Homo sapiens: one gene and its partners. The main gene of each other region encodes a partner of the protein of the gene in region 2 in a complex. Each region holds a gene or a part of one and is shown on either strand. Other genes may lie near its edges. The genes, in order: CETN3, NUP153, RANBP2 and NUP93.

Region 1 (7,034 bases), on a different chromosome or scaffold from region 2:
CAAGTTGCTCATGATAAAAAAGGTTAACATTTAAAATATGGATTTGATTTTTCTAATTTCAGGTTTATCTCGGGGTTTGGGGATCTCATTTGACATTTTATTGTCAGACTAAAAGTTGACAGTCACAGCTTTAATTCTCATCTAATATTTAGTTGATTTCACAAATGAATGCCTTTGTGATTATGCAGGTTTATTAAAATATATATGTTTTTAAACTGTAGTGACAGACTGGATATTGGAAAGAGATCCCCATGAAGAAATACTCAAGGCATTTAAACTATTTGATGATGATGATTCAGGTAAAATAAGCTTGAGGAATTTGCGACGTGTTGCTAGAGAATTGGGTGAAAACATGAGTGATGAAGAACTTCGAGCTATGATAGAAGAATTTGACAAAGATGGTGATGGAGAAAGTAAGTTTTAAGTGAAACGTATTTTCCAGGTTTTCCTGATGCTACACATGTAATACATTTTTCTAAAACCAAATGACTTGCAAGACTTTTTTGTAAACTTAACTGCTTCTTGTAATGGACCTTCTGTCTAAATAATTCACATATTCAATTTAGAATGAAGCAGATCTCTAAAACCAATTATACTTCAAGAAGGTCCTTCACTTTTCTCTGAAGGTGAAACCACCAAAATTTCAGCCTTTCAATATAATTTCAGTCTTTAATGGCTTCTCCCTCAACCTACATGCTAAGTTCTAAGTTCTATTGATTTTCCCCTTCAAATGTTTTGAATCTGTTTTTATCTTTGTCCATTGTGGCTGTCCTAGTTCAGGCCCTAATTTCTAGTTAGGAATGTTATAATGGCCTCATTTATTCTTGCCTTGGCTGCCTACTGGGTGCAGTGTCCTGCGTGTTGACTGGTGCTACACAATGAAAAAGGCAGATGTGGTTCTTGCTTTCACTTTGCAGTCTCTTGTAGTGTCCTAATTGCCCTTTCGGCATATAAAAGTCTCTAATCTCTTCTTCAGTCTCTTGGTATCATTCTTTTCCTAAAATATACATTTGATAATGCCATTTCTGTGTTTAGACACTTGAAACGATTCTTCAGTGCCTACAGAGTAAAGTTCAAAGCCTTCTATGATCTATCCCACCTTGAGTAACTGATTTTACTTTCCAGTGTATTCTTTCACTTTTCTTCTTTAACCCTCACCTCCTGTATGTACACATTTTGTCAACATATGCTATCCTGAAAACACATTTTTATGCTATTCGTTTCATCCTGCTGTTTCTTAATCTTAGAATGCTCTAATTGTTAATTTCTGCCTGCTAAAATGTGATTCATTCTCTCAGGTAAATATTAAACACCATCTTTTTCCCAAAAGCTTCCCATAACGCTCTATGAATCATGAGACTTCCATTGAAGGCCTATAGCATTTAGAGAAACAAATTGTTTTGATACTTTCATACACTTAATATGGAATCTTTTGGCTGGAAACTAAGTTTTGTTGAGATAAAAACCACTTTATTTGTATGTTAAACTGCTAAAGATTAGACCTTGCTGTCTTTTTTGTGGACTTTAGTGTTCTTCTCTCTTTGTGACTTTTTCATGCTTTTCAGTATCTAAGAGCAATGAAATTTTAAAAATATTGGGTATATAGAATAATAAACATGGTGAATGTGAAGTTAAAGGTAAATAAGATGTACTACAAGATAGACATAAAGCTGTGGTAATGATACAGAAAGAGTCACTTCCCCCTGCCCCCTCAACAGCATATATAAAATAAAACACAGCACATCTTTTGGAAAAAATGAAAGGAACGTTTTGAAAAGCCAGAATGGATAATCTTTTAAATAATGATGATGTTTTTTAACATTTATTTAGCAGCTACTATATTGGATATTAGCATTAATTATGTCACTTAATTTCCATAATAACTTGTAAAGTAGATATAGTATTATACCTATACATGTGTATAATAGATGCATATATAGAGATGAGGAAGCTAAAGCTTTGAGAGATTATTAATCTGCCCAGGTTATCACAAAGCTAATACTGTACATGGTAGAGCCAGAACTCAAAATCAAATCTCCAAAATGGCAAAGAATGTGCTTTTAAACGTAATATTGTATTGCCTTTCGGGCTATGAAGTAAAATATTAACTAGACTTCTATGTTTATGGAGTTTTAAAAATTACATGCTATTATAGGAAGCAGTGTATTAGCAACATACTCAGTTGGAACTTCCAATTCTAAGATTTGCTTTTCCCCTTCAAAGCCAGATGGTCTCTAAGGTACTTAATCTACTTAGTTCTGTAAAATTCTTATTGTTAGCAACTTGTAATAAGATTTGCTCTATGAAATGGTTGATGTATGAAAAATTTTGTTAAAGAAGGCAGTATAAAAGGAAACAAAGTGTCATATTTTCTTGATTCAATAAATGTTTTACCAAAGCTTATTTTAAGCTAGGCATTGTGGTAGATTTATTAGATATAGGAACTTGATATAAGATATTGTTAATAGAGAAGGTTATAAAATCAAATGCACAGAGATATAGAAGATTGTCTTTTAATTGTCTACAAGACAATTAAAGTAAAGTAGCTAGTTTAATTTCCTGAGCCACTTTCTAATTTTTACTTTCTTGGGTTTAAGTAGTGTGTTTTTAGGTATGAATCATGGAATTCAGTTGTCCCTTGATAAGCACAGGGGATTGGTTCCAAGTCGCTTAAGGATGCCAGAATCTATGGTGCTCAAGTCCCTTGTATAAAATGGCATAGTATTTTCATATAACTTTCACATATCCTCTTGTATACGTTAAATCATCTCTAGATTACTTATAATACCTAATACAATGTAAATGCTATGTAAATTGTTATACTTTATTTTATTTGTATTATTTTTTATTGTGTTATTTTCCCAAATATTTTTCATCTGCAGTTGGTTGAATCTGCAGATGTGAGGAACCTGTGGTTACAGAAGGCTGACCGTATTTTAAATACTTTTGAAATGCTATTATAGTTTAAAGTTTTTGTATATAAACAATATAAAAATTAAGTGTTTTGTGGTTTTCAAACTTATATATGAAACTTAAAATTTGCAGTTTGAGTATTGAAATTTTACAGATCAAGAAAAAGTTCTAGATCTTTAAGTAACAAGTACTTTTTGGATTTTGAATATTTTAATCATGGATGTATTACACTGTTAAAATGATTTGTAATCAAATCATTCTAAGGCTGTTTTATGTTTTTTCTCTTAATACAGTTCTTAAGAACATACTCTTGCTTCCTATTTGGTCTAGATGCCTCAGTCTAAATCGGGAGTTCTTCAGTGAAGGTGCACACTGGCTAAACTGATTAATAATTTTATATATTTGAACTGTATTTATTGGAAAGAGAGAGGGATCATAGCTTTCCTAAGATATTCAGACATGGCTATTTAACTGCAAAGGTTAAAGATCACTACATCAATTTGTAAGATTCTTGAAAGTAGTTTGGAGTATTACAGATTTTGTATTACGTTCTTACCATGTTTGTCATAGTGTTTTGTAGATGTTAAATACTGATTGCATGGCTTCATAGTTCCCTGTCAGCTTCTGGAGGGTGCATTTTTCCTAACTCATAGCTTATTTCTGTGAGGCATACACTATTCTTTCTTTGACTGTATTTCTGATGGTATTCTCCCACCCCAGCTCTCTTTCTACTTCCTTTCCAAATTCTGTATTTTTATTTTAGAGCCCAAGTAATGATTTACCTTTACCTAAATTTTTCTTATTAGTAATAATTTTTACCATTGTGAAGGATTTTTTTTCAACACTGATTTGGTCTTTGTTTTAATAATAAATAGTATTTTGTGTTATAAAACATTTGTTCTGTTTCAAGTATAAAAACTGACTAACATAGTTATCAAAACCGGTTTTCTATGTGGTTTCTAGAACCAGTGCAGTATATATTCTTTTCATTCCCTATGACCATGTTTTATCTCCTCAACATTTTTTAATTGGTTAATTTTTTCTAACTGTTCATTATGAATATTCTCAAACAGAAAAATTGTCAGACTAGTACAATGAACACCATTGTACCTTCTGCCTAGATTTAGTAATTAGTATTTTACCGCATTTGCTTTACCTGTCGTGTGTATATTTTTTTCTCAATCATTTGAAAATAAATTTCATATATCAAGAACTCAGTCTTTAGGCCAGGCACCATGGCCCATGCCTGTAATCCCAGCACTTTGGGAGGCTGAGGCAGGTGGATTGCTTGAGCCCAGGAGTTCAAGACCAGCCTTGGCAACATGGTGAAACCTAATCTCTACCAAAAATACAACGATTAGCCAGTCTCATAACCCGGTCTCTAAATTAATTAATTAATTAATTAAATTTTAATAATAAAACAAAAACTTGATCCTTTAATATTTTAGCATATCCATCTACTAAGAACAAGGATATATCTTTCATAAAGCTATGATACCAATGTTACACTTAAGAAAGTTAACAATAATTTTATAATATCATATAATATCTTTCTCATTTCGGTTTTAATGTATTCCAGAATAGGAAGCCTGGTGTCTGTTTTGATATATTACGCAACACTTATTGTGGTGTTGGCATTCACTAGCCACTTAAAAATGTTTGATTCAATGGAGTATTTTCATATAATACCTTCTATGGTAAATAAGAGTTAAACAATCTAAAACATCATCTCATAGTTCAGTGTTTTCAGATGAAGGAAATGAGATGCAGAGCTGTTCTGTGCAGAGCTGTGACTAGAGACCAGGTCTTAAGTCTCAGTGTAGTTTTCTTTTGGCATTATCAAAATTATCATTCATAATTTATGCATTGTTTAGGTATGTATTAAGTCTTAGGGCTAAATGCTAAATACTTACCAGAAGTATCTTCTGAACATTTTTCTTAATTGATACGTGCGCATATGTCGGGTTTTCAAAATTATATTCTATAAGATTATCTGATTTCTTATTTCTAGGTTGCTGTCTTAAACATTATGTTTTATAAATTGGAGATTCTTACTATATTTATAATTTTGGCAAACTAAAAATTAGTCCTTATCCATGATTATTTTCTGCCTTTACATCTATATAGTTACTGGATTACTTTGGTGATTAAGATTACATCTGTAATCTTTTCAAATTGCCATTTTTATTGATACCTTTGAGGTATGGTGACCTGGTTTTAATTATTCTTTAACATAGGCTTTTAAGTATATAAAAGTTCAAAAAATAATAATTTAACTTCTTTTTATAATTTTATTATATTTTCATTCTTTAGAAATCTAATTTACATGCATGATATGTTCAAGCTTACTTGTAAAGGAAGGATTTGCTAAATGAACTAGTAGAATAAAGATTATAAAGAGGGTTGTTTAAAGAACCTTGAAATGTCAAGCATTTAAAATGTTTTAGCAAGTATGTACAAATATGACTGTGATTGACTTTTTTGGTAACATTATCTTTTCCCCAGTTAATATTATAGAATACTAATTTGTAATGTTTATCACATTATATGTATTTTTGCATCCAAGAAGTTACATTTAATAAACATGTTCCACTTCCTAACAAAGAAGTAAAAGCAAAAAGCCATGTCTTAATGTAATAATTTTGCATAATGTAAAATTTTTTAAATACTTAGTGTAAAATGGTAGTCGTGGATTCTGAAAAAATAAAATGTTTATATTTCTGACTATTTCATTTTCTTTCTTACCACAGTAAACCAAGAGGAGTTCATTGCTATTATGACTGGTGACATTTAAAGAATTACAAGGATAAACACTAAGAATGTTGCAGTTACCATCTTATATTCTATTTTTGTGCCTGGAGCCATGTGAAAAAAACCAACTTAGTTCTTTTATCCTAAAGGACCAAAAATAAGCATCTTATATATCTGTATTTTACTACTGTTAAGTTTCTTTGTATGAACTGTGTTGTTAGTACTCAGATAGTTTAGCTTTGTATTTATAATAGAGCTTTTATATAAAGTTTTAAAAATTGAATGTGTGATATGTGTTCTTTGAAGGTTTTTTAATTTAACATTTATAGTCACTTTTTAGTGCACACATTTTCCAGACTTTCGTTAATAAAATATTTATTTTATTAGAATTTTAAAGTTTGGTAAATTTGTTTTTATTCCTAGTATCTGTTAACCCTCAAGAGTGGATTTCTTAAATCTTCCCTTTATAATTTTACTAGTTTCTGAAACAAAAATTGAAATACAATTAGCAATAGAGTGGCACATTTTTCCATTACCTAACATTTCATCAATTTTGACATTCTATATTTTAATACAAGCTGACTCAATATAAGCCTAATTCCTTTTTTAAGAGTCCTGTCTTTGAGTTTAGAAGGAATAAGTATTGTGCAGATAGACCCATTTATCCTTGTGTATTATGTTTCTTAACTTGGTATCATTGTAAGTATGAAAGTTAATTTTCTTCTGAATATTTCCTTAAACAAATTGAATGAATACAATTTGAATTTTCTAACTTCTTGACTGAGAGATTTAAATTTTGGAATTTTGATTTGTTAAGGTAATTATCACTCAATTACATGTCACAGTGATGAAAATAGAAAACTGTAAGCCACAGAAATAATTTAAGTCTATGTTTTACCTATATGAAGGAACAGTCTGTGATTCACCAGGAAATAGTAGAGACACAGTTTCCAAGTACTGGTGGGCTCTTCTGCCTTGTAGAAGTGTATGTTAGGGGGAAACAAGTGGTTATGGAGATCGATCATAGAAAAAAATAGTACCTATATGGATCCTTCACTCATATCTAGTACTCGGTGTTATGGGCTCTCCCAGGAACGGAATTGAGTTGTCTATTTCAGCAATCTTTCTTTAGAATTCTTGTTTTAAATTTTTAAGTTTAAAGTGTAGTATCATTTGAGGCGCTTTAAATGTTGTGAGCCTTTTAAGAGTATTACATTAAGGGTTGTCCACTAGAAATTTAACACAAAATCAGTAGGGAATACTATAGCAGTAGTGACATTTCAAACAGTTATCTAGGAAGCAAGTGTATATTAAGTCATTCTTGTATTGCTACGAAGAAATACCCAAGACTGCATATTTTATAAAGAAAA
Region 2 (7,700 bases):
TTGTGTTTTAATGAATTAATCTCAGTTAATTCATTAACTGTCTTAAATGTTAGGATGGGATTGCCTTCCTAAATTTGGTTATTATTTCATCCAATAAAACTGAGTTTCCATTCAAGATTGAATTTAAAATATGCCTTAAACTATAATGTAATGTACATAAACACATATATACCAAAGTCTAGTATACATTGATACATGTAGTCAGGAAGAGGAAATATATGGCATGTTGGAATCAAGTGATATATGTAGTTAATCAAAATTTGCTCATATTAGTTAATTTAGTCTTAAATATTACTTTATTCCCAATAGAGAGAGAACACAGTAAGTTAATGAGAATACAATGATTTACATCCTTAAATATCTTTCCGTTGTGTGGCCCTTCTTTCCCTAAAATACAAGCAAACAGGCAATAAATAAATAAATAAATAATAAATAAACCCAATAGCTTCATTTTCTTTATTTTTTTCTTTAGAGATGGGGTCTCACTCTGTTACCTAGGCTGGACTGCAGTGGTGAGATCATAGCTCGCTGCAGCCTTAGACTCCTGGGCTCAAGTGATCCTCCTGCCTCAGCCTCCCTAGTAGCTGGGACTACAGGTGCACACCACTAAGCTCAACTAATTTTTTCATTTCTTTGTAGAGAAGGGGTCTCGTTATGTTGCCCAGGCTGGTTTCAATCTCCTGGCCTCAAGTGATCCTCCTGCCTTGGCTTCCCAAAGTGCTGAGATTATGGGTGTGAGCCACATGCCTGACCAGGAATACACTTTAAAATAATAAAGTATGGTAGCAACAGGAAATGGCAAGGAGTGCCTGTTAAAAAAAAAAAAAAGGTATAGTAAATACATAAACCAGAAACAGCCACTTATCATTATGAAGTATTCTGTACTGTACATAATTGTACATACTCCACTTTTACACAAATGGCAACACAGTAGGTTTGTTTATACCAGCATCACCACAAACACGTGAGTAATGTGTTGCAATAAGACCTTAGGACAAAGACAGTATCACCAGGCAATACGAATTTTTCAGCTCTTTATGGGACCACCATTGTATATTGGGCCCATTGTTGATTGAAACATTGTTATGCTGTGCATGAGTGTGATAATTTGTTTTAATAGACATCACAGCAGATACCTCATTTTGTTTTGGTAAGGTGGAATAACTACATAAAATTTCGTAACTTCTTGTACTTGTCATCTTTAAACATTCTTTTGGCCAGAATTGTATTAGTACCTTCTGAAGAATGTATGATGGCTCTTTTTCAATCTAGGTTGGGTTTAGACTAAATTGTATTTCACTTTTAATTAGTGGATACTCCTTATCTATTAGAGATGGGTCAGCAGCCTATTTGCTAATTTATAATTGGCAGCTGGTTACATATATATATATACATATATATATATATTTGTTGTTTTAATTTTTTAATTTTTTTGATATGGAGTCTCACTCTGTGGCCCAGGCTGGAGTGCAGTGGCATGATCTCAGTTCACTGCAACCTCCACCTCCATGGTTCAAGCGATTCTCCTGCCTCAGCTTCCCGAGTGGCTGGGACTACAGGTGAGCACCACCACGCCCAGCTAATTTTTTTTTTTTTTTTTTTAAGTGGAGACAGGTTTCACCATGTTGGCCAGGCTGGTCTCGAACTCCTGACCTCCAGTGATCCACCCGCCTTGGCCTCCCAGAGTGCTGGGATTACAGGTGTGAGCCACTGTGCTCGGCCACTTTCTACTATATTATATGGGGAACAAAATAAAGAAGTTTCTTGGCAGAGGAGGACTATTGTAGCAACAAGCTTTTCATGAATTGCAGTGTCTCCCAATATGCCATTTATTTGGCTGAAAAAACTAGGTCCAGGTTGAATGCAGATTTCCTCCTGTCTCTTTATTCCTTCTCTGCTCTCAAGCCTGGCACGGCTTCCAATGACTCAATCACATGAATGTGAGATTAATGCATTATAGTTCCCTCAAATACTATTTTACTTCCAAGAAATAAAATAATTGTGGAAATGGGTAAAAAGTTGAGAGCATGGGTAAAAGGAATGTGGATTTTCCCATATCTCCTCAAGTTCTACCAATCTTCTATTTCTGAAGCATTGTCTACATTTGGCCCAATTCTTTCGCGTCTCTCTTCCTTTCAAAGGTTGGCTGTGAAGGGTGTCCAGCACATCAAAGAATAGCCTCCAAGAAAGGGGTGAGCTTTGATTCCAGTCAGTCCTCTGTTCTGTGGTGGAAACTCTGGGTCTCATAGAGTGAAGAGGGCAGATGGGATGTGGCTATGGTTTAATCTCCTCTACGTATAACCCAATTAAAGATTCAGGTACAGATCTTCCCTATGAGTTAGCTTATCGTGAATTACTTTACTTGGCTGTCAAATATCTAGCTATGGATTTGTGGAAGAATAGGATTTCTGCATAGGAGGAAGATAGCACCTGAGGGAAACAACTGTCTTTAAGAAAGATGAAGTGCTTCAGGAGGAAGAGGGGGCATACCTGGAGAATTTAGTGGGAAGTTAGTGGTGGGAGGAGGCATGAAGCTAGGATGAGACAGCGGAAAATAGATTAATTTTGTTTATCATATTTGGCAACTTGTCTTGATCTTGATGGTTATGGTCAGAGGTGCCACTGAAAGCCATTGATGTGTACACCTATGCTTGGTATAGCATAGTTTCTTTAGGCGCTGAAAGGTACAAGTTCAAAGGTACTAGAAGACTGGCTTTACAATTTCACTTGTATGATTTAAACAATGAACCTGAATTGTGCAGTTTGATTGTGGAGATAGTATAAATGTCTTGGAACTAATTATTTATATCTGATTGATGGTTGATATTGGATGCTTTCTATCTAAGCAGTTACTATGAACTAGATATACATTAATCCTTTCACCAGACCACTACCCTGTGAGGTCAATATTCGCTCTATTTGCTGATGAAAAAAACGAAGCTTAGAAACAGGATCAGTGGGCTGGGCGCGGTGGCTCACGCCTGTAATCCCAGCACTTTGGGAGGCCGTGGGCAGATCACCTGAGATTGAGAGTTCGAGACCAGCCTGACCAACATGGAGAAACCCCATCTCTAGTAAAAATACAAAATTAGCCGGCCGTCGTGGCACATGCCTGTAATCCCAGCTACTCGGGAGGCTGAGGCAGGAGAATCGCTTGAACCCAGGAGGTGGAGGTTGCTGAGATTGCGCCATTGCACTCCAGCCTGGGCAAAACAAGAGGAAAAAACTTCGTCTCAAAAAAAAAAAAAAAAGAAAGAAACAGGATCAGTAACTTCCCCAAGGCTACACAGCTAGTAAGTGGGAGATTTATAGTAAATAGGCTGGGCGTGGCGGCTCACACGGGTAATCCCAGCACTTTGGGAGGCCAAGGCGGGTGGATCACTTGAGGTCAGGAGTTCAAGGCCAGCCTGGCCAACATGGCGAAACCCCATCTCTACTAAAAATACACAAATCAGCTGGGCGTGGTGGTGCACGCCTGTAGTCCCAGCTACTTAGGAAGCCGAGGCAGGAGAATAGCTTGAACCTGGGAGGCAAAGGGTGCAGTGAGCCAAGATCGCGCCACTGCACTCCAGCCTGGGCGACAGGGCAAGACTCTGTCTCTCAGAAAAAAAGAAAGAAAGAAAGAAAGAAAAAAAAAGATTTATAGTAAGTCTAAGATTTTTCACAACATATTTTTCCTCCCTAATCATTTGGCTATTTGTCTTTAGCTCTTACAGAAAAGTTGGGTTATAGTCCTGGCTTTGATTACCCATCTCAGTGTCATTGATTGTGCCACCTAAATTTCTCTGGACATCTTGTCTGGTTGGTTGAATGAGAGGGTTGGACTATGTGATCACCAGGACCTTTCTAATCGTCAACTCCTAGAATATACATTTTGTGGATTCAGTCTTTGAGTCTAGCTCACTTACTCAGTTTCCTAAATATTTGGAGCAAATATAGTATACTTTTATTGTTAAGGATATATCACTTACCCCTAATGTTAGCTGACTGCATGGGTTATAATTGTAATCATTCATCGCATTTTTCGTCTATTAGCAAATATACATGCTCTCCATAGATGATCACGTCTGCTCCTCACAACAGCTTTATAAGGTGGATTTTAAAGCTCCCATTTTATGGAGGAGGAAGCTAAGGCTCAGACGGTTTTGATTCATCCAAGGTCAAATAGGTTGGGTGGCAGAACCAGAATTCCAGCCCCGTGTGTCTGCAACAAAACCTTTATATGTTTAAAGAAACATTAATGAAGCCGTATATATTTTCTAATTCTAAGGATCATGGACTTTATTTTTCAACCACAGATTTTTTTTTCCTCCTTCTTAAATCATTAGCTCTTGTCTTTGATTTTACTGTCTGCTTACTTCCTGCCTACTTAACCAACCGACAGGGAGAAGGAGAATGGGAAGAGGTTACTGTTTTTATGTTAAGTGTCTTTTCAAAGTCTAATTTACAGCCAAGAACAGCAAAAGTACCCCTTGGCTTTGTGCCTCTGCGGCGCCCCGGAGATCTCCTTCCCCGTCCCTCTTCCTTTCCGAGAAGCCGCGTTCCGTTGTTGAACTACGTTTCCCAGCGTGCCGCGCGGCCGAGAGCGTGGACTCGACCAGCCCTTCCTCTTTGCCTATCAGCTCGTCGCAGCATGATGATGCAAATGCGTCGGGCGCCGATGAGTGACGACATTCTGGCTCGCGACCGCGGCAGCCGCCTTAGCAGGGGTAATAGGCGCAACGGCGGCGGAGGCTGCAGGGACGACGACGACGACGGCGGCGGGGCGGGCGCTGTGCGCACAGGGGAGGGGTAGGCGGGCGTCGCCAGCGGCTTCAACTGCGGCAGCTACGGCTAGGGCGACGGAAGAACTCCCACCAGTCGGCGGTCGAGTTAGGCCTCAGCACCGCGGGGAACTGTTCGTGCTGTCCTCTGCGGGAGATCTCCATAGAGACCGTGACACACACAGAGGCGGGGGTCCGCAGAGGCGGCCGGACCGGAGCCTCCTCGGCCTCTGCGGCCGCCACCCCCTTCCCCGCTGCCAGCACTCACCCTCTCTCCGCTCCTGCTCGCAACCTCGCGGTTCCTGGGGTGCTTGTGCCCACTGTGTGGACAGCGCGGGCGGACTTTTGGGCCGGGGCCGGGCGGCGGGGGAGGCTCTCTAAGGCCTCCGCCTCTGCCTCTCCCGCCCCCTTACCCGCCCCGGAGCGGGAAGCGGCGGAGGCTCCGCCATGGCCTCGGGAGCCGGAGGAGTCGGAGGGGGCGGTGGCGGCAAGATCCGGACGCGGCGTTGCCACCAGGGGCCAATTAAGCCTTACCAGCAGGGGCGACAACAGCATCAGGTATGGGACCCCGACGCCGCGGTGGCCTGGCGGGTGGGGAAACTCGGCTGGAGGGGACGGGCGGTTCGAGGCCCCGGCGCCCCACGTGGAGCAGACAGGAGGGCCTGAGGAAAGGCCCGAGTGAGGCTCCGGGGGAGCTCAGGCCGTTGGGGGTGGCGACGGGAAGTGGGCTGAGACAGGCCCAGCCTTGCGGCGCACACGTGTGGTTTGGGCCGCCTTTCCCCCAACTCTCTGGGTCAGGGGCTTTCCCAGGCAGGCTCTGGGCGGGAAAAGAAATTGTAGGCCCATGATGCGCGCGTTTCTTTATTTTTTGGCGGGGATTTGGAATTTGAGGGTATTACTCATGTTCTCTCGAGGGAGAAAGGAAAAGATGTGGTTGATGGCCCTTATACTTGCTGTTTTCTGGTGTCCCTTCTTTAGTGTGTTTGAGGAGGGGGGGCTGCCCCTTGGAATCTTAACTCTGGGGCAGACGGGGAGTTGTGGGGGGCGCTGTTACATGGAAAGTGGAATAACTTAGTCTCAGCCTATGAGTTAATTCTCGGTTTCCCCTGCCTGTGGCCCTCCTCGTCTTGAGAGCATTGGCTTAGATTTTATTAACCAGGTTATAGTTAACCGTGGCACTGGGGCATTTTGAAAGTCCCTCTCCACCCTTACGTCTTTTCTCTGCTGCGCGACTCCCCTCCCCCCCCCCAACACCGCCACCCCCGCCTTTATTTTGGAGGCTGGAATTGGCCATTCTCCACAGTTGACCGGGACTCCAGCTCTGATCTCATACACAAAATATTTTAATATTATGAGGCGTATTCTAGAAGTATAGTTACTTTTGACACTCCAGGAATGTTGGTGGTCTTATAGTTTAGCCACTGTATGAACTCCTGGATGTTTAAAATTATAAAAAAGGATTATCCTAATTGTAAATGAGATAGTTGATTCTGAGAAAATTCCATTTTTAAAATATTGATTGTTAGAAGTATTGAATAGGAAAATGTTAACTTATTTTAATAAAGCCACTTATCAGTGATACTGAGGTGGGAAGTGTGTGTCTTAAATTTGTTGAAAAACAAAAGTGTAGCAAAAGGATCTGATAACTTGTTGCCTACTGTTAAAGGTAGACTTCCTAGATTACTTTATTCTGGATGCTAATAAAGATTACACACTTTCACATGGTTGATGTTGTTAAATTGTGTCATTATCAACAGATTTTTAAAAGTAAAGATTTGGGTCGGGCGCGTTGGCTCACGCCTGTAATCCCAGCACTTTGGGAGGCCGAGGCGGGTGGATCACCGAGGTCAGGAGATCCAGACCATCCAGAGACGGTGAAACCCCGTCCCTACTAACAAATACAAAAAATTAGCCGGGCGTGGTGGCAGGCGCCTGTAGTCCCAGCTACTTGGGAGGCTGAGGCAGGAGAATGGCTTGAACCCGGGAGGCGGAGCTTGCCGTGAGCAGAGATCTTGCCCCTGCACTCCAGCCTGGGCGACAGAGCGAGACTCTTGTCTCGAAGAAAAAAAAAAAAAGTAAAGATTTGAGGAATTTTTTTTTTTTTGTCTTCTAGTTTTCTTAAATGTTTTTTATTTTGAGGGAAATGTTTGAGTAGTAAAAATTGTGGTTCAGGTATTTTCAGTCGTTCTCTACTGATGGTTAGGTTTGGCACTGTTACTACTCCCACCAGTTTTCCCCCAGATATGTACATAAAGTGCTTAGTTTTCAAATTTGTGAAGAAAAGGGGTATTTGCGAGCAGATTTAAGATTAGAATTCAGGTCACAAGCCTGGCCATTTAACCTAATCCGTCTGTAGAATGGAAGTTACACATGCATGCTTTCTTTTCTCCTATGAATGCCTTTGAGTGCTTAGATTTTCTTGTATGACATGTAGAAAAATGACTTGTTTTAAATATAGGTCATTGGATGGTCTGAATAGAGGTTAGAAGGGAATTAATATTTTCCAGATGTCTGAAGTTATCACAGCTTTTTTTTTTTTTTTTGAGACGGAGTCTCGCTCTGTCACCCAGGCTGGAGTGCAGTGGCGCGATCTTGGCTCACTGCAAGCTCCGCCTCCCGGGTTAATGCCATTCTCCTGCCTCAGCCTCCAGAGTAGCTGGAACTACAGGCGCCCGCCACCACGCCCAGCTAATTTTTTGTATTTTTAGTAGAGACGGGGTTTCACCATGTTAGCCAGGACGATCTCGATCTCCTGACCTCGTGATCTCCCCGCTTCGGCCTCCCGAAGTGCTGGGATTACAGGCGTGAGCCACCGCGCCCGGCCCCTGATCACAGCTTAAATGTACTTAGATAAAATAAAAATCTAATTTTGGGGAGATGATGTCTTAACAGCATAACACCTATGATCCAAGGTGTCTTAGAGTTGATACGACTTCA
Region 3 (7,034 bases), on a different chromosome or scaffold from region 2:
CCATGGCTACATTTGTTCCTGGGGCTTTTAAAATGCTCTGGGCTTCTTCAAACTTGCATTTAAAAAGTGCTGCTTCCTCAGGAGTTTTGAACCTAATAGCAAGTTGTTCTGGTTTTGGCAACTCATCTGCATAATCAAGGGCATGCCATACAAAAGATCTGTCTGATCCAGCATTTGGTGTCAATTTCATATCTGGACTGATGTAATGATTTGCACAGATTTTCAATACTTGCTCTCGTCTCATTAGAAGGCGAATTTTACCAGATGTTTTATGCCTCAGTATTTTTACATTGCCAATCCCACGTTCTTTCCATTCTTTGGATTCTACATCGAAACGAAACAATTTCGCGCGGTTGCAAAAGAATTCTTCTTCATCTTCCTCACCAGTTTTTACTTCAATCTTATCAGGAAGAGGTACTACAGGCTCAAAGTGAGGACCGTCATCATCATCATCCCCATGGGCACTTCCTCCATCTGTCTCATGATTCTTGTTTGCTGTCTCTAAAGTGGGTGTTCCAAATACTGATTTCCCTGGACCATGGAAAGTAAACATATCATCACTTCGCCGAAAACCAGAATTCTTTTGCTGACTCGACCCCATGTTTTCTGTAAATGAAATTCCAGACACATTTTTGCTTCCAAAATTGAATGTATTTCGAGGCCCAATGGTTTGACCACCAGGAATTGGTTTGGCTCCACTATAGCCATCTCCTTGCAAGGGTTTATCTGAAGTCAGGAGACCTAAAAGGCTTTCACTGTTACTGTAAGCTGCAGGAGGGGGCTGTGTCACAACCTGTGGTGAGGAAAACGTGAAGTCACCATCATTTGATTTGAAATTTGAGTTAAATTTAAAAGGAGTTGGCTGTGTTGTGTGTGCTTGTGTTGGCAAAGATGGCCTTAATCCTTCACCCGGCATGGGCTGAACAAAATTAGTTTTCCCAAATTCTATAGTCTTAGATTCTGCAGATCTTGAAGCATGAGCTGCAATCGGAGGTTTTGTGAAATATCCTGGTTCTGGCAAAGGTGGATTTGTGCTTGTCTGTTGAACATTGTAATTAAAGTAATCATCACCCCTGGGCGATAGAATTCCCGTTGCAGGAGACTCAAAACGCAATGCAGGAGGACCATACATCTCCTGAGAGAACATACAAGCAGATGAGCTTTGCACTGGCGGTGTGTGCATCTGTTGCGGATAGGCATAAATATGCTGTTGGGGTGGAAGCCTATTCATGCCATAGACTGGGCCCTAAAAGACAGAAAGTTAAAACATTTTGTAGATTGTCTACAAAACTACAGATAACTAAATGCAAACCAATTCTCACAAACTTCAAACATGAATATGAAGTGAAGAAGATCTCATTAGGGGATGTAGTACACATCATTAACCCGTTTATGCCAGAGGCTGCAAATTTTCTGTGTGAAAAATCAGACCTTGGCAATGACCTTGAGCAGTAGGATATAAATAACTCCCATAAGCTTAGTGTTCCAATAATGGAGCACTAGGCATAAGTAGGTTAAGAGAAAACCACATTACTACAAAGATACTTGCATATATACTTGGCATATAATGAAAATTATGTATAGCATCTTAAAATCTACAGCTAAAGTCATAAAATAAATACCTTCTTCATTCCTAATTTATCAAATGATGTTAATGATGATGATGATGATGATGATGATGATGGTAACATTTATTGAGCATTTATTAATGTGCCAGCTGGGCACTGTTCTAAGCACTTTACATTATTATCTCATTTTAATATCCTCAAAAACCCTATGAATTAAGGTATTATTATTATCCTCATTTTACATATGAGGCAACTGATGCATTGAGAGGTTAAGAAACTTGCCTGTGGTCAAAATAAGCAGAAGAGCAAGGGTCTAAATGCACCCCAACACTCTGTCCTCAAAGCTGTCACATTCAACTACCACTGTAATATTGAGTCTTCAATCAATTGTTATATATATAGCTGTATCAGGCCTGAAAGTACTTACCACATAGTGGGTCAGCAAGGGCATTACAGTTCTATTTCTGTTAAAACAGAACGATGAAGGATCCACCACCACCACTCCCATTTTTAAAATATTCTAAATATTCACACTTATTAACACAAAAATAAGGTGACTAAGAAGGATAATTTCTGTATTTGGAGATAAATTTAAAATATCTACATTTTAAGGGACATAAAAGTTTTAATAGTGAACTGCTCTCTTGAATTTATTTGAAGGAACCCTAAACAATTTAAAAAGGAAATAATTATAAATGTATAAATTATTCCTTTGTTACCTTTGTGGGAGTAACATTAGCTGCTGGTCTGAGAAGATACTGGGAATTATATGCTGGTGACTGACTATAATATACTGAAGGGCCAGTAGTTGCAACTAAAAAAACAAAAAGAAAATAAAGAAAACACTGTTAAAGTCTATACTACAGTTAAGACTATCTAGGCAAGAGCTATAAATACAAAGGCAATAGAAATTAAAGAAAGATTTAACTACATAAATTTTAAATTTCTGTACATCAAAATACACCAATCAAGATTATCAAATGACAAACTAGAAAAAAACTGCTAAATATGACATGAAGAATAAGAGAATAGCATTGCTGTGATCAACAAGAACAACTACCTCACAAGCATTAAAAAAGGAATAAAGAAGAAAGTAACTGTTGCCTTTTCTAAGAAAGATCAGTATGATGTGGAATTATGGACATTCAGTCACAGAAAGGACGTAAGGAACCAAGATGCCATCTGATGGTCAATGCATTTGAAGTGGGCCTAGAAAATCTGCAGAAAGACTAGGTTGTATTTTGTAAACTAAAGCTATTACTGAGAATGTTCAGCTCAAAAATCACCTGACAAATTCATGGACAGGATGTCATAAATAACATAAAATGTGTTCCCTGGCTTAAAATAAAAAGCACATCAACACTCATGCTGATGTACAAACTGTCTGCTCCCTCTGTTTTGTGTGTTTTACCAGGAAACAAAATGACTAGAAGGCACCCATGTTAATGGCAAAACTACCAATAGTCATTTGCTTGAACTGTTTTATGATAGTTTTACCAGAAAACAACCAAAAGACCTTTTATGCCTGTACATGGAAAAAGAAACAGAAACTGTGCCAAGAGGTTCCAAACAATTGCCTCTGGAAAGCACTGAAAAATCAAGACCTAGAAAAGGCTAGCCAGAAGCCCAAGTTTGATTTTGGAAACCTTACAGAGGTGAGGATAGCTATTTTGAAATTACTATGGGGAGGAAGCAGGCACAGAACACAGAACAACCTGACAGAAATGGCCCAAGAATCTTAAAGTCTTGCAAGATGTCTGTCTGCATGAAAGCAAAAAGAAAAAATAAAATATTAAATAAAAAAAAAATCTTAGTCTGAAGTTTAAGTAGGGACTTTAATTGACTACTGACTCTAAACTGTGCGGCTCTAATAAATCTACTAAAAGTAATCTAACTTTTAAAAGCACCATATGAATAGACAATTTAGGAAAGAAATGTTAATAGGCCTCAAGGAACATGTTTTTGAAGTGAGCCTTGAAAAATCCGCAAAATGATGAGGTTGCATTGGGCAAACTGAAGCTATTATGAGAATGTTCAGGTCAAAAAAATTACCTGACAAATTCATGCAAAGGAGATCACAAGGAACACAAATGTGTTCGCGGGCTTTAAAAAAATCACATTAACATTCATGTTGATATACAAACTCTTCTCCATCTGTTTTGTGTGAGTTTTACCAAGAAACCAAACAACTGGGAGGTACCCACGTTGAAGATGGCAAAACTACCAACTGCCATTTGCATGAATTGTTGACCATGACTAGTATTAAAAAAACTTAAAAATTGATATCACTTTTGTTCCTACAAATTGGCAAAGGATTTTATAAACCAGTAAGTCAGCATTAGCAAAGTGCGAAAATGGCACTATCAGATACTAGTGGTAAGAGCATAAACTGAATATTCTGAATACCCTATAAAACTAGGACAGTGTCCTAGAATTTGTAATGGCATAAACCAGAAACAACATAAATAAAGGAACAGAATTTACAGTACTTCCATGTGATGGGATACCATGAACTCATTAATGTTCAAAAAACATTTAAGTTTAAAAATGCTCAGAACTAAAGTAACATTTAAAAAACAGGCTAGCTCATCTACACACAACATAGTAACATGGTAACAATCTCATAAAAAATACTATATGTATAGAGAAAGAACTAGAAGGAAATGCTCTCAAATATAGGAAATGTTAATAAGGTGGTTAGCTTTTAGTTTTCTTCACCCTGTTCAGTACTTCTGAGTATCTCCTATGAGCTCATTAATCTTTAATTTTAATCATCTTATTTTTAAAAAACAAGGACCATCTTGATATATGTTTACTTTTATTAAGGAAAAAGAATCTATGAACACAGGAACAGAAATCAGGAGATCTTGGCTCTCGCCCTTTCAGTGCCACAAAGCTGTTTTGTGAACCTGTAAATAATCCATTTGGAGTCTCCATGTTTCTCAATTGTAAAATGAGGATGTGCTGCTTCTACACATTTCACAGGGTCATTGCAAGAATAAAATGAGACAATGAGAATGTTGGATTTACATGCTTGTATAAGAACAGAAGATCTTTTATGCCTGTACACAGAAGAAATGGAAATCATGACCCACAAGGCACCAAATAACTGACTGCACACATCACTAAAAAAGCCCCAGGAAAGGCTAGCCGGTTTGTTTATCCTCTTACAAGGACCTATATGATGTGTAAGGTTTTAAGAAAACAAGGTTTGAACGTTAGACATTTCATATACTTATCTATGACTTATGACATTTAATAAGCTTGATTTCACAAAGATTTTCTGTTATTTTGCTTGTGTTGAGAAGATACTATCACAAAAGGCTAGTGGGGTTGCCTTAACTATATGAACCATCACACAAATGTGCTCATCTAAACTAGATTTTATTCTAAATCTTTCCTGGGCTAAAAAGAGAAAAAAAAAGGGCACTACTACTACTACCATTTCAGAAGTCTGTCGTACGTAAAAGGAACAATTTTGTTATTTCTCGCTGCCTGGGAGCAATGTATTATACTGGCAAGTGCTTTGGAGTTACACCACCGGAGTGTGAATCTCAGCTCTATCAATAACTAGCTGTATAATAATGAGTAAGTTACCTAACCTTTCTTTAATTTCCTTATTTATAAAAAAGGGATTAATAATGGTACCGGCCATTCTAAGTTACTGTAATTAAATAAAATTACATTCACAAAGCACTTTTGCACATAGCCAACCCACAGTAAACACTATTAGTAACCTTAGTTCATTAACTGTTTACTGTATACTCTAATAAATGTCTGATACACACCCACGCCCACCTGCACATACACAAATGCTCATAGTAATTATGTAAGGCAAGTATTATCTCCACGTTTCAGACAGGTTATCTTACACAGCTATTATAGTAAGTGATAGAGCAGAACTTAAAAACCCAGTATGATTCAGGTCCAAACTCCTTTTCTTTCTTTATATAACCATAATATTTCAAATTAAGTAAGATTTCCTATATAACGTCCTGCCTCTCATCATTATCATCAAAATAATTCCCCAGAGGTGTAGGTTCTTAATTAAGCATTTCTTAGTGCATAACTCTATTCATTAACATTTTTCAATTTAAGGAATAATCTCATCTCAGCTCATCTGAGGTGTGGATTAAGTGTTCTTTAAGCCTTTATATACACGTGATCACATACGGCTCGTTTTTTCTGCTTGGGATTATAAAAATCTCCGTAACACCAAATACAGCTTTTGAAGTCACATATAAACAGACGTTGACATGTATATTAACAAACATATATAAACAAGGTGATTTCACACGTTATCTACTTAAAAGAGGGAAGTAAAGTAGTTTTACTAAAATATGCGATTATCCACTTGCCAGCTCACCTGTTAGTGGAGCCCCATGAAATGTCTGTGACCCCTGATATCCATCAGGCACTGAGTCTGGTCCATAATTCTCTGTGGGCCAACGATGAGGGGATGCTGAGTTACTGCTATTTAGTTTCAACTCCTGCATTTCTTTCTATTGGAAGAAAAAAAAATCAAATAATTTTAAACATTTAATTATATCATGACAGAAACAGTGCTGGGGAAACTTACTCTTTTAAATTTAAATAACTGATTTTTTTTTTTTTTTTTGAGATGGTGTCTCGATCTGTCGTCCAGGCTGGAGTGCAATGGCACAATCTTGGCTCACCGCAACCTCCACCTCCTGGGCTCAAGCAATTCTCCCACTTCAGCGCCCTGAGTAGCTCGGATTACAGGCGTCAGCCAGCACGCCTGGCTAATTTTTTGTGTAATAGTAGAGATGGGGTTTCACCATGTTTGCCAGGCTAGTCTTGAACTCCTGACCTCAAGTGACCCACCACCTCAGCCTCCCAAAGTGCTGGGATTATAGGTGTGACCCACCACGCCCGGACCTGATTATATCTTTTGAAAGTTTCTATTTGCCAGTGAGTTCTAGGTACCTGGTGCTGATTTTAAAATATGATTCTTAATTTGTTAAAAATTTATCTGCTCCCATTTTCATTTATTAATACAAAACCTAATTTATTAACTCTCACCTAAACAAATAACCTCCTAAATGATCACACCTTCATTTCCATTCTACACTTGCCTACATTAACCTTTCTGACGTTCACCTCCAGCCAAGACAATTCCCTGCTCAAAAAAACAAGTATCTACAAACTAAACTTCTTTCCTCAACTTTCACAGTCCTCTAACATTACACTGACCATCCTTTCAGTGTGTTCTTTCTGCACTGCAATCTGGACTACCTGACATTCCGCGTTACCTCCCCAAATTAGCTTTTCACTTAACCCCATGCTGAAACAAAATACAACTAATTCTCAAGGTGATGTTCAAATGCTCCACCAGGAAAGGGAAAAAAGTAGTAGCTGCAGAGAATTTATTATGTATATAATAATACGTCCAATGCACTTAAACTCTTAATTTTTATACTATCTACACTGTTAGGTAAACAATAT
Region 4 (7,000 bases), on a different chromosome or scaffold from region 2:
GTCAGCCCCCCGCCTGGCCAGCCGCCCCGTCCGGGAGGGAGGTGGGGGGGTGAGCCCTCCGCCCGGCCAGCCGCCCCGTCTGGGAGGTGAGGGGCGCCTCTGCCCCGCCGCCCCTACTGGGAAGTGAGGAGCCCCTCTGCCCGGCCAGCCGCCCCGTCCGGGAGGGAGGTGGGGGGGGTCGGCCCCCCGCCCGGCCAGCCGCCCCGTCCGGGAGGGAGGTGGGGGGGTCAGCCCCCCGCCTGGCCAGCCGCCCCGTCCGGGAGGGAGGTCGGGGGGTGAGCCCTCCGCCCGGCCAGCCGCCCCGTCTGGGAGGTGAGGGGCGCCTCTGCCCGGCCGCCCCTACTGGGAAGTGAGGAGCCCCTCTGCCCGGCCAGCCGCCCCGTCCGGGAGGGAGGTGGGGGGGTCGGCCCCCCGCCCGGCCAGCCGCCCCGTCCGGGAGGGAGGTGGGGGGGTCAGCCCTCCGCCCGGCCAGCCGCCCCGTCCGGGAGGGAGGTGGGGATGTCGGCCCCCCGCCCGGCCAGCCGCCCCATCCGGGAGGGAGGTGGGGGGGTCAGCCCCCCGCCCGGCCAGCCGCCCCGTCCGGGAGGGAGGTGGGGGGGGGTCAGCCCCCCCGCCCGGCCAGCCGCCCCGTCCGGGAGGTGAGGGGTGCCTCTGCCCGGCCGCCCCTACTGGGAAGTGAGGAGCCCCTCTGCCCGGCCAGCCGCCCCGTCCGGGAGGGAGGTTGGGGGGTCAGCCCCCCGCCCGGCCAGCCGCCCCGTCCGGGAGGGAGGTGGGGGGGGTCAGCCCCCCTGCCCGGCCAGCCGCCCCGTCCGGGAGGTGAGGGGCGCCTCTGCCCGGCCGCCCCTACTGGGAAGTGAGGAGCCCCTCTGCCCGGCCACCACCCCGTCTGGGAGGTGTGCCCAACAGCTCATTGAGAACGGGCCAGGATGACAATGGCGGCTTTGTGGAATAGAAAGGCGGGAAAGGTGGGGAAAAGATTGAGAAATCGGATGGTTGCCGTGTCTGTGTAGAAAGAAGTAGACATGGGAGACTTTTCATTTTGTTCTGCACTAAGAAAAATTCCTCTGCCTTGGGATCCTGTTGATCTGTGACCTTACCCCCAACCCTGTGCTCTCTGAAACATGTGCTGTGTTGTCCACTCAGGATTAAATGGATTAAGGGCGGTGCAAAAAAAAAAAAAAAAGAAATTTAGCATTTAATTTTAAGCAGAAACTCTGCCCTCAAACCTTATTAATCAGACTATGACAGGAGTAAAACACAAGAATGGTGTTCAACATTCTTGTGAATGATTCTTTCTTTTCTCATCCAAGATTGATGAGAAAAACCTCCACCCAAGGTATCAAAAGTTTAATACTGATTCTGTTCTCCTCTCTTTTGAATACATAAACTAGCTAGATGACAATATCATTCCACTTTTTACTATTATCTGTCAGCTGTCAATTACAACAACAACCCCAAAAAAATTAAATCTTGACAGACATCATTGTTTCAGATGCCTCTGGAAGAGAGAGGAGAGGGAAAAAAAAATTGTTGGAAAGTTCTTTACAGCCCTGTGAGACTAAGTAAAAGAGACCTTATCATTATTCAAAAGGTAGAGTTCTGGAGAAAACAAAGACCTAAAATAAATTAACCTAGACAGAAGAAAAAGACTTGGGTGATTTAGTAGCAGTACTGCCCTCAGTGACTCAATGTTTGCAATAAGGAATGGGTAGTATCAGCTTTCCTGATACATAAAATATCACTTGTATTATTTCCTCTTCAATGAGCAAAGAGAAGTAATAACCTGGCATCACAAAGAAAAATAAATTATCCACATAGTAACTTTCTGATAAACTCTTGGCTGTCCAGCAGAAGGCCCAGCTGGGAAGAAAGTGCTGTGGACTACAGCTTGGCTCCATCCCACGCCAGCCCTCTGACCCTGGGGCTGGATCGTCTCTGGATGAGGGGGTTGCTCAGGTGATCTCTAAGGGCCTGCTCACCTTAAAGAATTTACAAATGTGAGATGTTTTAATTCGGTCTTTAAACTTACTTGATGCTTCCTGGGAAACAGCCCCATTTTAGTGGTGATGGAAATTATCTCTACAGAGAACCTTAGGAATGATACTAGTTCTGTCTTACAACTAGCATAAACAGGGGCAGATCACCAAGTCGGCCCCAAAGGGCCTGTGGCTTTGGCTCTGGCTCTGGCTCTTCTCTCTAAACCAATGCTACTCAACTTTGCCCCACAGGGGACATTCAGCAATAGCTAGAGACATTTTTGGTTGTCACAACTTGGGAGGCAGAAGGTGTGCGGATTCTAACAAAAGTCTGGGTCCCTACCATTATAATTTTAAAACCATTGCATTTACAGAATTATCCCACTTGGGCTTTTTATGGCAGTATATTCATACCTTGGTATACCACACACAGCAATGGAAAAGAAACTACAGACTACACAGAACATGGATGAATTTCACAGACATCACAATGAGCTGAAGAAGCCAGATACAAAAAGAAAAAAAAAAAAGCACCGTATGACTCCATTTATATGGATCTTAAAAACAGAAAAAATGAATCTATGGGACTAAAGATCAGAATACTGGTTATCCTTGGGAGTGTAGGGGGAGTGCTGATTGGGAGAAAGCACAGCAGAGCTTTTCGGGTACTAAGGACTGAACTGTATTCTCTCAGAATTCCTGTGTTGAAGCCCTACCCCACAATGTGATGCTATTTGGAGATGGGGTCTTTGGGAAGTAATTAGACTCAGATGAGGTGACGTGGGTGGGGTCTTCAGGATGGGATAAGTGCCCTTAGACACACCAGAAAGCTTGCTTTCCTCCACCTACCTCTCCCCACACATACACATCAAAGAAAGGTCTTGACTACACACTGAGCAGCGAGGAAGAGGGCCCTCACCAGAACCCAACTATGCTGGCATCCTGATCTCGGACTTCCAGCCTCCAAAACTGTGAGGAAATAAATTTCTGTTTAAGCCAGAACAACAGATATTTTGATATTTTATTATGGTGATCTGAGCTGACCAAAGTACCAGAAATGCTTTATATTTCAATATGGACAGTGGTCACATAAGTGAATAAATGTGTAAAAATTCCCTAAGCTGTATACTTAAGGTTGACTCACAGTTTTTTAGAAGGAATAGCAAGAAACAAAGCACTGACTTAGCAAGAAACAACCTAGCATTACCAAGGTGAGAGTTGGGAGACTTTTCTACTTTTCATTTGATTCCCTTGTCAGGGCAAATTCTTTTCCATGAGTATATGTGATCTTACATAATTTTTAATAACTTGTTAATTTTAATATTGCTCTAAATTCCCTACTTCACAGTGTGTGTCTCACCACTGCCCTTGAAGACTCAATGGCAATGACTGTCAAATCCACACCTGCCCCCGTGCACTCAAACTCCAACCGTGAGTTTCCAGGCACCACTGGTGCATCTCCTCTCAAGCACATAACTGTCACACCCACCATGTCTCCAAATGCAGTTATCCACCCCCAACTCCTCCTCCGCCTCTGCCCCTGGCTTCTGTCTCCCAGGTTCTAACTCACCCTGTTCCTTTGCATCTCTGTGTTACCTCAGATTGTTTACTTACAGGTGTCCCTCCACTCTCAGACTCAGAAACCAAACACATGTAGATACATTTTTCCATAGCAAGCAGGCAGGTATTCCTCATTATCCAAACTATTGCTACTCTCTAACTAAAACTCAGGAAACGAAATACTACAGACTCAGATAACATGATATTCCTCACTCTCCAAACTCTCATTACCGAAACAGATTATTTATTTATTTATTTTTGAGATGGAATCTCGCTTTGTTGCCCAGGCTGGAGTGCAATAGCGTGATCTCAGCTCACTGCAACCTCCACCTCCCGGTTTCAAGCAATTCTCCTGCTGACTCAGTCTCCTGGGTAGCTGGGATTACAGGCACGTGCCATCACGCCAGGGTAATTTTTGTATTTTTAGTAGAGATGGTGTTTCACCATGTTGGCTAGGCTGGTCTTGAACTCCTGACCTCAGGTGATCTGCCTGCCTCAGCCTCCCAAAGTGCTGGCCTTACAGGCGTGAGCCACTGCACCCAGCTCCTAAACAGATTTAAATAGCATGGGGTATTTATATTTTTGCAACATCCTCTAACTATTGCTTTCATCCCCATCACTACCACCTAAGGCCAGACCTTCATTCCTTTAAGTCTAAGTCCTTCTTACATGCTAGAACATGGGCTTCCTCCTCCTAGCCCTGCCCCCAACTCTATGCACCCTACTCTCTGTGGCCACCTCTAGCTTCCTTTTTTTTTTTTTTTGAGACGGAGTTTCACTTTTGTCCCCCAGGCTGGAGTGCAATGATGAGATCTCAGCTCACTGCAACTTCCACCTCCCAGGTTCAAGCGATTCTCCTGCCTCAGCCTCCCGAGTAACTGGGATAACAGGCACGCACCACCATGCCCAGCTAATTTTTGGGGTTTCACCATGTTTGCCACGCTGGTCTCGAACTCCTGACCTCAAGTGATCCGCTCGCCTTGGCCTCCCAAAGTGCTAGGAATACAGGCGAGGGCCACTGCGCCCGACCCCATCTCTCTTTCTGACACGGCTGTTGCCCCTGCTCAAAAAACCTCACTGGCTCCCATTCACAGGGATCCATCCAGGTGAGTCACTGCTTTTAACTTTCTACCTCCCAGAATAAACCTTGTGTACCAGTCACTTGATTTACTTGGTCCCTGACTATCCTTGCACATGTCCTGCTCTGTGCCATTTTTCCCAAAAAGAAACACCTACCCAACCTTCCACTGCAGCCCTGAGCTCCAGCCAGCTCCTTCACTCTTTAGCTCGATGACTTTGGGCAAATTAATTACTCTCTCTGGGCCTCATCTGTGAAATGGAAAAATAACTGCATCTCCCTCACCTGTCACAAAGTAACCACTCAATAAACATTAGCTATCATTATTACCACCAACTCAAGTCCTACCTACCAAATGGTCTTCCTCAATACACATTACCTACAGAAAGTTTCCCTCATCTAAATTCCTTTTACTCCATTCATTTATTTGCCCGACATCATCTCCTGAGCTCTGTCTGTGTATGAGTCCCCACTATGGGCTTTATTTGTATAATCTAATGTCATCCTCACAGCAGACCTCTGGTGTCCAAAGGGACCAACTGGTACACAGGTTTTTCAGCAGGGCAACAGCCGTGTCAGAAAGATAGAGATGGGCACAGACAGTAGGGTGCATGGAGTGGGAGGGGTTAGGGGGAGGAAGGCCGTATTCTAGCATCTAACAAAGACTTGGACCTTCCCCATCTTCCTCATTTCAGTAAATAGTATCTTCATGCTAGAAGTTGCTCAGGTCTAAAACCGTGGCATTGTCCTTGACTTCTTTTCTCCTCTTATACCCTACATTAGCAATTCATTTCTACACTACATTTATTCATATATACATGAGTCAGACCCACTTTTTGTCTCTTCTACCACTATCATCCTGGTGCAAGCCACTCTCATGTGTCACATCTGGGTGATATAGTAGCTTCCTGTCTCCCTGTTCTTACTTTGTCCCCTCCCACTTCCCAGTCTGTTCTCCACACCACACTGGGAAGGATCCTCTAAAGGGGCTCAAACCTTCAATAGCCCCCGTCACTCACAGGCTGAGATCCAAAGTCCTTACCCTGTGCTGTGAGGCCTACATGACTGTCCCCGACCCAACTCCTTCTGTTACCACTCTTCCCCAGGATTATGTACTTTGGTCCTATGGCCTTCCACTCTTCTTCAAATATGCTAAATACACTGCTGACTTGGGCTTTCAGTCACTGTTTCCTCTGCATCTGCAGGAATATTCTCCTCCAAAATACCTACCTAGCTAACCCCCTTAATTCCTTCAAATCTCTGCTCAAAGGTTTCCTTTTTAAAGAAGCTTCTCAGCACACCCCAGCTAAAGCAGCCCCACCGTCCACTCTACCACATTTCTGTTTTACCTCGTTGGTAGTATGTTATCAATTTCTGGCATCACATGCCTACCTGTTTGTTCATTTATTGTCTGTCTCCTAACAGGCTCCTTGAGTCTGGGAACCTTGTCTGGTCTGTCCACAGCCCCATTCCCAGTACACTGAACAACAGCACCTAATGCTCAATAAATATGTGTTAAATGAATGAAGGAAGGAAGAGAAGACTATAACTTTGGTGTACCTAACAGATCAATGTAGGAATTTTTGGCAAGGTTTGAGAAAGTTTCTTCTGGCTTTTAGCAACTGTGTATGGGGGATCTAGCTGTTTGAGGACACAGTTGAAGCTATAAAAAAGTATAAAGCTATAAAATATTTCAAACGTTATGTTATTCAGGGGAGAAGAGATGGAGGTATTAACAGACATTAATACAAGGCAAATAAGTGAGCTAGGAGGACTCTAATCTATCAAAACAAAGGGGATTCTCATATCTCTATGTCCAGCCCAACTCTTTTCCCAAGCCAGTATTTCCAACTGTCCACCTAATACCTACACCTGGATGACTCATGGGTGCCTCAAACTACACATGTCCCAAATCAGACTCATCACTTCTCTCTCCTTAGCCACTGCCACCACCAATGCTTCCTTCTCGTGGGTTCCCAGTCTCTTTTCGTAAAACAATTAGCACACAGTCAGGTAAGCCAGGAACCACCTTCAAGTCACCCCAGCGCCCCTTTCACCTCCTCAACACTCAGCCAATCTCAAGCTCTACTTCTCAAACCTTTTGCAAAGTCATACCCTCATCTCTCGCCCCTTCTCTGACTTGCACGCCGACTAAGCCTTCTTGTTCCTCCAATCAACCTCCCCATGGTCAGGGAGGTCTTTCTGAAATGCTTTCCTGCCTTAAGTCCATCAGGGACACCTTCCATCCCCTACAGAATAAGATGCTCATGTTTTGACAGAGCTATAAAGGGTGCTCTCCATAGAACAGACACTGCCACCCTTACTATCCTCATCCCTCGCTGCCTTCCCCCAATTATATACCCTAGCAATTCTCTATTCTTTGGGG

The links.
Region 1: NUP153 (region 2) and CETN3 share a complex: the UniProt entries of both Homo sapiens proteins name them as parts of the nuclear pore complex.
Region 3: NUP153 (region 2) and RANBP2 share a complex: the UniProt entries of both Homo sapiens proteins name them as parts of the nuclear pore complex.
Region 4: NUP153 (region 2) and NUP93 share a complex: the UniProt entries of both Homo sapiens proteins name them as parts of the nuclear pore complex.

The regions. Positions count from the first base shown.
Region 1 is NC_000005.10:90,392,737-90,399,770, reverse strand, and holds part of CETN3 (centrin-3), read left to right. Parts: intron 1-221; coding exon 222-413; intron 414-3,206; coding exon of another isoform or gene 3,207-3,278; intron 3,279-5,663; coding exon 5,664-5,707; 3' UTR 5,708-7,034. UniProt on the Homo sapiens protein: Plays a fundamental role in microtubule-organizing center structure and function. As a component of the TREX-2 complex, involved in the export of mRNAs to the cytoplasm through the nuclear pores.
Region 2 is NC_000006.12:17,703,898-17,711,597, reverse strand, and holds the start of NUP153 (nuclear pore complex protein Nup153), read left to right. Parts: upstream 1-4,672; 5' UTR 4,673-5,210; coding exon 5,211-5,321; exon of another isoform or gene 5,322-5,468; intron 5,469-7,700. UniProt on the Homo sapiens protein: Component of the nuclear pore complex (NPC), a complex required for the trafficking across the nuclear envelope. Functions as a scaffolding element in the nuclear phase of the NPC essential for normal nucleocytoplasmic transport of proteins and mRNAs.
Region 3 is NC_000002.12:108,757,449-108,764,482, reverse strand, and holds part of RANBP2 (E3 SUMO-protein ligase RanBP2), read right to left. Parts: intron 6,071-7,034; coding exon 5,935-6,070; intron 4,539-5,934; coding exon of another isoform or gene 4,426-4,538; exon of another isoform or gene 4,370-4,425; intron 2,383-4,369; coding exon 2,288-2,382; intron 1,247-2,287; coding exon 1-1,246. UniProt on the Homo sapiens protein: E3 SUMO-protein ligase which facilitates SUMO1 and SUMO2 conjugation by UBE2I. Involved in transport factor (Ran-GTP, karyopherin)-mediated protein import via the F-G repeat-containing domain which acts as a docking site for substrates.
Region 4 is NC_000016.10:56,733,129-56,740,128, reverse strand, and holds part of NUP93 (nuclear pore complex protein Nup93), read right to left. Parts: intron 1-7,000. UniProt on the Homo sapiens protein: Plays a role in the nuclear pore complex (NPC) assembly and/or maintenance. May anchor nucleoporins, but not NUP153 and TPR, to the NPC. During renal development, regulates podocyte migration and proliferation through SMAD4 signaling.